Regions from separate parts of the Homo sapiens genome. Here region 2 is linked to region 1. The links come from fine-mapping of genetic effects on gene expression. A gene starts in region 1. The other region holds a variant in brackets. All regions are shown on one strand. Distances are between the middles of the regions. Region 1 holds the start of CCDC144A (coiled-coil domain containing 144A). Region 2 overlaps PEMT (phosphatidylethanolamine N-methyltransferase).

What was found.
Region 2: its variant is fine-mapped to the expression of CCDC144A in breast (GTEx, PIP 0.97).

The regions. Positions count from the first base shown.
Region 1 is chr17:16,687,905-16,693,273 of GRCh38, reverse strand. It overlaps CCDC144A (coiled-coil domain containing 144A), which reads right to left and starts at 3,033. Exons shown (of 17, transcript NM_001382000.1): 1 at 2,530-3,033; 2 at 225-295. The coding sequence starts at 2,873. It also overlaps the pseudogene RNU6-405P. RefSeq lists an enhancer at 3,140-4,043.
Region 2 is chr17:17,512,017-17,517,385 of GRCh38, reverse strand. It overlaps PEMT (phosphatidylethanolamine N-methyltransferase), which reads left to right. Exons shown (of 7, transcript NM_148172.3): 4 at 4,732-4,877. Among named protein-coding and RNA genes, the nearest start is that of RASD1, 18 kb to the right of the region's middle. RefSeq lists enhancers at 1-307, 1,178-2,047, 2,918-3,787, 3,788-4,657. The variant T/C (reference allele first, on the strand shown) is at 2,199.

The sequences.
Region 1 (5,369 bases):
GACCATAATTAATTTTTTTTCAGACCAGATTGTTTGAAAAAATAAATGACCTACAATTAACTTTTTAAATAATTGTGACATCTAACCTACCAAGAAATCTAACCTATCAAGAAAGAAATAAAGATTTTTTAAAACTGCTCTTTCATGATCAAAACTTCCTTACTCTTACTTCTTTTTTACCTATGGTAGGACCACCAAAAATAATTCACTATCAGAAGTCTTACCTGGATTGTTATTTTGAGGAAGACTTTCAGGTGTCTGTTTTTCCTTATATTCAGGAACTAGTTGCTGAATGCTATGGATAAAAATGTAATAAATGAAATTACTATTTTAAAACAAATGAAAAATACCAAATATATTAAATTTTTAGAGTATTTCAAACAATATCAGAGTTAATATCAGAACTTTAATTATCCCATATACTTCAATTTGTGAGTTCTACCAACTTCTCTTTAAGCTTCTGAAGAAGAAAAAAAGATGAAGTACTCATGAATTGAAGGGAGTATAGCTCAGTAAATTAACTCACATTAGCTTGGCATAATGGAAAGCGTCCTAGCTCTATTACCAGCAGCTATTTATTCTCTGACAAGTTGCTTCTCTTAGGCTCAATGTATTCTTCTAAAAAGCAAGGATTTTACTGCCTTATTTCACTAGGTTGTTAAAGATTTAACAAGAAAACGTTTTGTAAATGCTCAGAGAAACAGTGAAGCAATGAAATAATTTGTTCTTGAGCTTTATTGAGGAAATGGTTTTGGAATCACAAATAAAACCCAATGTGTATTTTTCCAGAGGTTCTAATATTCAAATGTTGCAGTTTTCCAAAACTGTTATTAAGTTCTAGTTTTATTAGTTCTATTCTTTGTGGCTTATAATTTGGGGCATCACAGCTAGTTCATAGTTTGTAACTAAATTTACTTATAAATATATTATTTCATCAAACTAGATAACAACACTGTCCACTATTACTGAGCTCATCAATCACGCCAAGGGGAGAAAGCTAATAGATGTCAAGACCTAGCTTGGACTACTGTTCCATACAGACTCAAACTCTGAATCGGCAGATCTTTGTTAGAAGGATGCTCAATCCCCATGTTCATCTCCAACTGACATGGAAAACAAAATGCTACTTTTCTTTTTCAGTTCCATGAAAGACATGCAAGTTGACATTCTCTCATTTCTGAGATACATACTGACAATATATTTGCACACAACATCCCACGTGTTACTCAGCTCCATTGATCACCTTACTGCATATTTTTGTAGTGAAAAATCACAATTTTAATATTAGGTGATACCCAGTTTGCTTTGACTCACACTGTCTTTGGAACTAGTCAGCAAATAGTCAAATGAACTTCTAGTGACTGCGCAAAATATGGACCACTTCAAAAATCTGTGCATCATCCTTATGCAGGCAGGGGCCATGCTAATTTCTCTCCATTTTGTTCCAATTTCAGTATATGTTTGCTGCTGAAGCAAGTTTTGTTTGTTTGTTTGTTTGTTTGTTTGTTTTAGACTGAGTCTCGCTCTGTCACCCAGGCTGGAGTGCAGTGGCGCGATCTCGGCTCACTGCAAGCTCCGCCTCCTGGGTTCATGCCATTCTCCAGCCTTAGCCTCCTGAGTAGCTGGGACTACAGGCGCCCACCACCACGCCCGGCTATTTTTTTTTTGTATTTTTTAGTAGTGACGGGGTTTCACCGTGTTAGCCAGGATGCTCTCAATCACCTGACCTCGTGATCCGCCCACCTTAGCCTCCCAAATTGCTGGGATTACAGGCATGAGCCACTGCACCCTGCCAAAGCTCTCATTTTATACATGGATATTCATGAGTCATGGATGAGACTTAGCTCTGTTAAATCCAACTAACATACTTGAGACTCAGAATTCTGGTGATGGCTTCCTGCCACAAATCTGGGAAAGGATAATATGGGACATTCCACGATCTAAGAAAAGGGTCCTCAGCATACAGATCTGGTAGCAATGAAAAAAGGAAACTCCTCTCTTTCTGCAACATTATTTGAACTGAACCCCGAGGGCCTAAAGGATAATTTATCATGAAGGTCTTAGCTAAGTCTAGGCTGAGACAAAAGCATAACAGGCGGGGTTTCACCATGTTGGTCAGCCTGGTCTCGAACTTCTGACCTCGTGATCTGCCCTCCTCGGCCTCCCAAAGTGCTGGGATTACAGGCATGAGCCACCGAGCTCGGCCAACATGAAGTTCTTAAGGATGGAAGGAACCTGAGCGACAGTAGAATATGTCTGCTGTATAATAGGTATTCAGCTTATGTTTGATGAATAAATTGAGAAAATGGATAAACACAGTTGGGAAGTGCAATATTTTTAAAGAAAACTCCTGTAAAGTAGACCAACACTTTTGCAATAGTAATAATCCTTTATATTTGATCCCGTCTCACTAAGAGGCCTGGGCCCCTGACCCCTCTGACGTTTCCCCATCCCGGGTGCCGTGGGGCCTGCGGGCACCAGAAAGCCAGTGTCCCCGACAGGACGGCGCATCCTTCGCCTGGCCATTACCTCTTCTTCCTATCCCTCTTGTCCACGCCAGTGTCTCCAGGAGCTAAGATGTGCTCCACCCCAGGGACGTCGCCCGACCGGGCAGCTCTGTGGAGCTCGCCAAGATCTTCCAGGCGGACGTCGTGCTGGGGCTGGTCTAAGGCGCCCTCACCGTGCTTGCTCTCGCTGCCGACGCTGTTTTTCCACCAGCTGTAGGGGAAGCCCGAGGACCACTGGTCCCCCGGGTAGCCCAAGTACCACTGGTCCCCCTGGCTCCCGACGCTAGGGGTCTTCCTCGTGGCGTAGACTGCCGGCTTCGGAGACCCCTCAGCCCCTCCCCGCTTTTCTCCACCCCAGGAGGCCATCAGTAGCGAGCTACTGCCTCGGCCACAACCTCCCAGCAGGATAGCCCGCGGTTTCCAATCTGCGAAAGGAGGACCGCCAAGCCAGAAATGCCAAGCCAAGCGATCACTGCCACGCCAAGCCAAGCGACCACCGCCAAGCCAACAGCCACCGCAAAGCCTCGTGGGTAAGGCCAAGCCAATCCGTTACAGACCAGTGCGCCTGCCCACCTGTGACATCACGGAACCTGTGACTTCACTGCATCTGCAGCTCCAGCCTCCCAGAAAAAGACTCCTTGGCCTGCAGGTGGCGCTGCAGCTCCAGCCTCCCAGAAAAAGACTCCTTGGCCTGCAGGTGGCGCTGCAGCTCCAGCCTCCCAGAAAAAGACTCCTTGGCCTGCAGGTGGCGCTGCAGCTCCAGCGCCAACCTGGGCTGGCTGGTCCTCCCTCGGAGGTTTCGGGGTGGCGGTGCCCAGCCTGCCTGTCATGAGTGCCGCTTCACAGCGCCGCCGGCGCACCTGCTCCTAGGCTTGCTCGGTTCAGGGGTACGGGTCAGTTCCGCCCCCGGCTTGGCCACTGCAGCAAAGTTGCCCTAGGGTCCGCGCTGCCAGGACGCAAGCGGAGTCAGATGGCTGGGTCAGAGCGGCCTGTCAGCCCGGCTGGAAGGGCCTGCCCGACGCCGCTGCCCGCCCAGCTCCTACTCGGCCTGCGCCTGGAGCCAGGGACCAGCTCTGGGCATTCTGCTGCCTTAGGATGGGGCCAAGCAGCCGCTCCCCGCCGTGTGCCGCAGCCGCTGCGCGCATCTGCCCAGGGTCCGTGCAGCTGGCGACCCGGGCGGGTCGGGGAACGCCTGGTGCCACCAGGATTGCTCGCCTCTAGTCCGTCCTGACCCTTCAGCCCGCGAGCACCAGTGAGATTGAAGAAAAGTGACGGCCAGGCGCGGTGGCTCACACCTGTAATCCCAGCACTTTGGGAGGTTGAGGCGGGCAGATCACTTGAGGTCAGGAGTTTGAGGCCAGCCTGGCCAACATGGTGAAACCCTCTCTACTAAAAATACAAAAATTAGTTGGGCGTGGTGGCGCGTGCCTGTAGTCCCAGCTACTCCAGAGGCTGAGACAGGAGAATCTCTTGAACCCGGGAGGTGAACGTTGCAGTGAGCTGATATCGTGCCACCAAACTCCAGCCTGGGCGACAGAGCAAGACTCCGTCTCAAAAAAAGAAAGAAAAGAAGGAAGGAGAGAACGAAGCAAAGAGAAGGAAAGAAGGAAGGAAGAAAGGAAGAAAGAAAGGAAGGAAGGGTGACAAAGGAGAATCTAGAGAGCACTCAAATACTAATTCTTGAGGACAATTAAGACAGATAGCATTATGAAAAACAGATTTTGTCACTGAAGCCTCAGGGCTTCAGCCTAGATCCTGCGCTGCTCACCCACAGAAAGCCAATCACTGAGATGAGTATTGCAAAGGAAGAAGGCTTTAATCAGATGCTGCAGCCGAGGAGATGGGAGCTCAGTCTCAAATCCCTCTCTCTGACCAACTAAAATTAGGGATTTTTAGTATAGCAAAGAAGAAATGTAACTATGTATAAGAAAACATGAACTAGAAAGGCGTAAGGAAGCAATCATTTACAAAATATCTGTGGCCGGGCGCAGTGGCTCCCACCTGTAATCCCAACACTTTGGGAGGCAGAGGCAGGTAGATCATGAGGTCAAGAGATCAAGACCATCCTGGCTAACATGGTGACCCCTTGTTCTCTACTAAAAATACAAAAATTAGTTGGGCGTGCTGGCACGTGCCTGTAGTCCCAGCTACTCGGGAGGCTGAGACAAAAGAATCGCTTGAACCCAGGAGGTGGAGGTTGCAGTGAGTCAAGATCATGCCACTGTACTCCAGCCTGGCGACAGGGCTAGACTCCATCTCAAAAAAAAAAAAAAAAAAAAAAACAGAAAAAGAAAAAAAGTATCACCCTGCCTCCTCAATCTTGGCATAATTCCCCCTATGAGTGGTTTCTGGGGTCTCAGTTGGCATTTAGTCACACGTATGACATTGCACATATCGTGTGCACATCTGCACAGCTCAGCAGTGTCCTGGGTAGGCCTTGAAGGGTGATCTTCACGTAAGCCTGTGGCCTGAGCAAGAAAGCTGCACACGGGCAGCGGAGGAACCAGCAGGAGCCCAGTCCTCTGTGGAAAATTCCAGCACCACCCGCAAGAGCAGCTGCAGTGGAGACTGTGACCTGACAAGGATATATGCATGAAGATGCTGGTCTGAAAACAGACTCAGTTTAAGGGTGGCACTTTGAAAAAATATTGATACATGTCAGTGAGAAAAAAATAATTAGAAACAAAATATATTTATTAGAAATATTACAGTCATTTATCATACACTTTCCTATGAATAGTTAAATACATCTAATTAGCATGTCATATCCAAAAGTGCTGGGTACAATCTAGTGTGCTCTTTATAGACACAAGGCCACAGATGTATCAACTACACTCAACTAATGTAGTTAAAGTTAGTGTG
Region 2 (5,369 bases), 820 kb before region 1:
AAAAAGCGACTCCTGCTGTCTTGGCAGAACAGGCCAGAATTTTTAAAGAGTCTGTGGACTGGGAAGCCAAGTGTATTAGTTTCCTTCTGCTGTGTAACAAATTCCCACACACTTAGGGCTTAAACCACACAAACTTACTATGTGACAGTTTCTGTGTCCAGGAGGCTGGATGCGGGGGCGGGGTCTTTGCTTAGGGACTCCCCAGGCTGGAATCAAGGTGCCTGCTGGGTGTGAGCTCACCCAAGGCGTGGTCCTCCACTCTTTCGGGTTGCTGGCAGGACGCGGGTCCTTGAGGCCCAGCTCCTGGTGGCCTCCCCGCAGCACAGCAGGCAGCTCTGTGGCTTTGGCTTTTGGTCTCTCTGGCTTCTAGACCCTTTTGGAAAGGCCTACCCAGGGTCACCTCCCTTTTGATTAACTCAAGGCCAGCTGATTAGGACCTGAATTCTATTTGTGAAATCCCTTCACCAGAGTGATTTCCTCGAGGCAGGTGCCTGGGGTAGCCACTGGGCGGGGTCCATGAGGGCAGCTGGAGAGTAAGGGGTGGGGGGACACTTAGGACAGGGAAGCTGGCATAGGCTTTCCTGGGCACAAGGGCCCCCAGCTGCTGGGAAGGAAGGAGGGAGAGGGGCTGCAGTTCGGCAAGAGTGGGTCCAGGCCCTGGTAGACCAGGCTGGTCTGGCACCTGAGGGGCTGTGGCTGGGAAGGAGGGAAGAGGCACCCTCCCCATCCCCAAAGCACACACGGCCAGGAAGTCTGGAAGGAGAGTGGGTGTCAGCCTGGGATTCCCAGGTGCTAGGGGTGCTGGGATACTGCTGCCTGTTGTCCTTGGCCTGCCCGTGAGGCTTGAGCCTATCCCACTGTTTACAGGTCGTGAGGAGGCAGGAGAGCCATCCTGCCCCTCCTGCTTTCTACCATCTGCTTCCCTGTTTGTAAAACAAGACAGACTCTCTCTCAGCTATTGATGGGTTCTGGAAACACTTTGGAAAGGTGACGTGTTATTCAAATGCTCAGAATTAGTGCAGCGTCAAAGCCCGAAATTCAAGCCCTTTGATGGTCTCGGGGGTTGCATAGATGAACATTTTTTGTTTTAGTAGTTACATGCTTATTTTAATATGTCTTGGAAAAGAAATGAGCCCATCAGACGACTCATTTCATGGCTAGCGTCGTGTAGCTGAGATGGAGTGGAAAGAGCGAGTCACTCCAAGCCTGGGGTGAAGGATGTGGAGTACATGGCACTCAGGCCACACATGGATGTGGACGACGTTGCGGAGACACCCCAGGATGATCAAAGTCAGGGAAGTGTTTCTGGTCGGCTGCAGATAGAAACGGGACAGGCCTGTCCCAGGTGGGGCCGTGTGCCTCTGGCCTGGTGTGTGGCCCAGGACTGCTGGCTGGGGACAGGGCGGGGACACTGAGGGCAGTGATGCCCCCTCCCCACCTCCACCCCAGGGTTTCCGGGATTTTATGGGAGCAGAGTGCAGACAGCCTCAAATCACATTAATGACTGAAGGTTCAATCCAGGTCTTAAAAATAGAACCCAAGGCAAATGAATGAGTCTCCGTTCCCCACCCCTAGTGCGGAATACTTCCAAGGGAAATTGCGTCCTATATTACCTCATTCTGTTAGGGAGCTTGTGGTCACAGAGCTACTCATCCATCCACTAATTTTCCCTGTGGAATGGACGGACTGTGCTTTCCTGGCTTAATGGAGGAGCTAGAACACTGTCGATTGCCTAATTCGGGCCATGAGATTCCAGTAAACCTGGAATCTAGAATCAGAGTGTATTTGACTGGGTAAGGGGCCACTTGGTGAGAACGCCAGGGAGGAGCTCAGCCCAGTTCCTCTGCCGACTCTGAGCAAATGACCCACAGAGCATTGTGCCAGGAGCCAGCCCAGGCTGTCATCTCAGAGAAAGGAAAGGAAAGGCCCCAGGACTGGGGCCGTAGGCGGAGGAGCAGCTGGGGGACTGAGGGTCAGGTCTGGGGCAAATCTGGGGCCTCTCCCACCCGCTCCCTGGCCCCGGATCTGCCCTTCATCAGGAATCTGCTTCCAAGCAGATCTGATTTGCCTACTGAGCCATGCCCCCAGGGAAGCTGGGCCCTGAATGAGCTGGGCTTTTGGGCCACACCAGAGGGAGGAAGTTCCCTTTCATCTGCTGCCTGCTTGTGTGATGCAGATGAATTCTGGCAGAGGAACCC[T/C]GAGCATGGGGTATGGACCCAGGCCTGGCTCGGGTCTCCGCAGGAGGGGGTAAGAGCGACAGAGTCTCCGTCCAGAGTGACCCTCCAGCGTCTCGGGCCTGGCCTCTGCGCCCACCCCCTATTGCAGCACCTGGATGGGTCTCCCTGGTTCTGCATTTTCCACAGCAGGCAGAGTGCATTCCAAACCCTGCCGGGCCGAGGCCTGCACCTTCCCTGCTCCATGCCCTGCCCCAGACTCTAAGGCACACCTCCCTGCTATTTCCTCTTTCTGGAATGCTCTCCCCTGTTCGCCCCTCCCAACCCCTGTCTGTTTTCTGGTCCCCACTGCAGTGGCAGCCAAGGAGCCAGATGCTTGCAGGGGAGCCATGCTCCTGAGCAGGGCCGGCACCCTTCCTTTCCCTCCCACTCCACCATCTGCAGGCAGGAGAGTGGAGGGTGCCAGGCAGGGGAGAAGGTGTGCCTGGATCGTGGCACCACACTGGGTGTGCATGTGGCCACCTGATTCCATGGCAGCCCGTGACCCTGAGCCAATCCCAGAGGCTCGGCCTGGAGCTGCGGGGTGACCCTGAGCCCGGGCAGCAGCAGGATCAGGGCAGGGCACTGGTGGGTGGAGAGCTGGGGGTATGGGCAGCATGACCGGCAGTGGGTTTGCCCTGACACCCGAATGCCGCTGTTTAACAGGTCGGTGTGCCCGCCTCTGCCACCGGGTCCTGGTGGCTTTGTCCACAGGCCCTTCTCCCTTTCTCCCTGGCTCCTTCTCTGCTCTTGGGGATGGGAGGAGAAGGAAGGAGCGGCTACTGCTTCTCTCCAGTCGATGAATATGCACTAAACATCCATTCTGTGGCCTGGGCCAAGTGCTGGGGGGATACGCAGGGAAGGAGGAGCAACTTCTGTTCCCCAAGAGCTCCCAGTCAAGCTGGAGGAAGGAGTTCCAGGGAGGCATAAAGACATGTCTGTATGTCCTTAGCTCAGCATAAGGAGTTTCACAACAATCTGAATTCACCAATGAATGGAACGAGTGGATGAAGATGGGGGCTTCAATCTGCTTGAAAGAGCCTAGCAAACAAAGATACTTCATGGTGGATGGATGGATGGTTGTGTGGGCAGATAGAGGATACATTGATGGATGGAAGGATGGATAGCTGGACAGATGGATGGATGTGTGGGTGCATAGAGGATAGATGGATGGAGGAAGGATGGGTGGTGGGGTGGATGGTAAGCTGGCCCTGCTGGGAGATGCCGTCTACAGACTGGGTGTGAAAGGCGCTGCCCTGCGTGAGGTAGCAGATCTCCATGTCTCTTCTGTGTTGTGATTATTGTGAGCATGGGAAGAGCACATTTGGTCACACATGTCCGTGCTCCCACACACAGCCTTTCCTGTGAGTGTGCCTCTCATCTAGCACCCAGGGCCCCCTTCCCACCAGCGCCCGCTCCCCTGTGATGAGGCCTGGGTACATCAGCACATGCCTAGCCCCTGTGCCCTCCCTGCACCAGCCCCTCAGTTCTCCGGAGCCAACTGGAGAACCTGAGCCTCTAGACCCACTGCTGTCATAGTCACCCCCTTTTGGTCACGCCACTGCCTTTTCTTTTTTTCTTTTTTCTTTTGATACTAAGTCTCGCTCTATTGCCCAGGCTGGAGTGCAGTGGTGTGCAAACTCCGCCTCCTGGGTTCAAGCGATTCTTGTGCCCCAGCCTCTCAAGTAGCTGGGATTCCAGGTGCCCACCACCACACCCAGCTAATTTTTGTATTTTGGGTAGAGACAGGGTTTCACCATGTTGGCCAGGCTGGTCTTGAACTCCTGACCTCAGGTGACCCGCCCACCTCGGCCTCCCAAAGTGCTGGGATTGCAGGCGTGAGCCACCACACCTGGACCCCACTACCTTTTTACAAGGCCTTCAGTGGTTTGGCCCCAAAGGGAGCCTAGTGGGGGAATTCAGGTGTGGAGGAGGACATTAAGGGCCCCCAAAGTGCCTTTAAATGCAAGTCAAGCCACCCAGGATGTGGCCAGACCCACAGGGGCTGTGGAAGCGCAATCCCTAGCACAGAGCATGCCCCAGGCCTCGGGGCACTGAGTCTGTTGGGGAATGGGACACCTGGGCCTGCCCTGCAACCTGGCACCTGCGTCTTTCCTGAGCCTCACTTTCCTCCATAGTATGAGTTGCTCATTGGACAGGATGAGAGTTTGCAAGCTGGTGGCCTTCGGGCTGAATCCAGCCTGCTCACATGCAGGGTCTAAAGTGGCTTTCATGAATTGTCTATTTCTAAAAATTAGGATATTTCACATACGAGTCAGGATTTCTGGCTTCTCTTGAAAAAATTTAAAAATCTGACAGGCCTGGGCCCCTCCCTGTTACTGTCACCCACCTCCCAGGTGGACTGGACCCCACCTGCTGCCTGCCTGGCCTGGCAGCCCTGGGCTGGCTACTCTCTAAGGGTCCCTGGGGAGAGGGCGAGAAGATGAGGTCGGCCTCCTCCCGGGCTGTGACATCCTCCCTGGCCATGACGTCCTCCCTCTCCATCCCCTGCCCACAGCTTCACGCAGGCCATGCTGAGCCAGCCCAGGATGGAGAGCCTGGACACCCCCGCGGCCTACAGCCTGGGCCTCGCGCTCCTGGGACTGGGCGTCGTGCTCGTGCTCTCCAGCTTCTTTGCACTGGGGTTCGCTGGAACTTTCCTAGGTAAGACCCTGAGGGCTGGGGTGACCCTGAGCAGGACCGCTGGAGCCCCAGGGAGGTGCAGGGCCAGGTGGCTGCTGCCCTGCTATCCGTGACATCGGTGGGAGTGCTAGGGGCCCCCTCCATCGGGGCGTCTTTGCTCCTCCAGGCCTGGCTTGTCTGTGGTTAGAACAGGAGGCTGGGCTCCAACAGCTCCTCTTACCCCAGCGTGCTGAGCGGCTGCCTCCTGGGGAGTGAAGGCAGCTCCTGCTGCTTCTCTCCAGCTAATGAAGATGCACTCAATGCCCGTTCTGCGGCCCGGGCTGGGTGCAGGACTCCTTGAGTCCAGCTCCAGCACCAGCTCCCCCTTGCAGAAGACTCTCAGGCCTTGTTGCACAGAAGCCTGAGGTGGTGGTGAGTCAGCCACCTCTCTGGCAGCTCCCGGCACGCGTGGCTCTCAGGCCAGGCAGGATTGTGGTTTGTGCCGTGTTTGGCCGCAGGCAGGGCTGGTGTAGG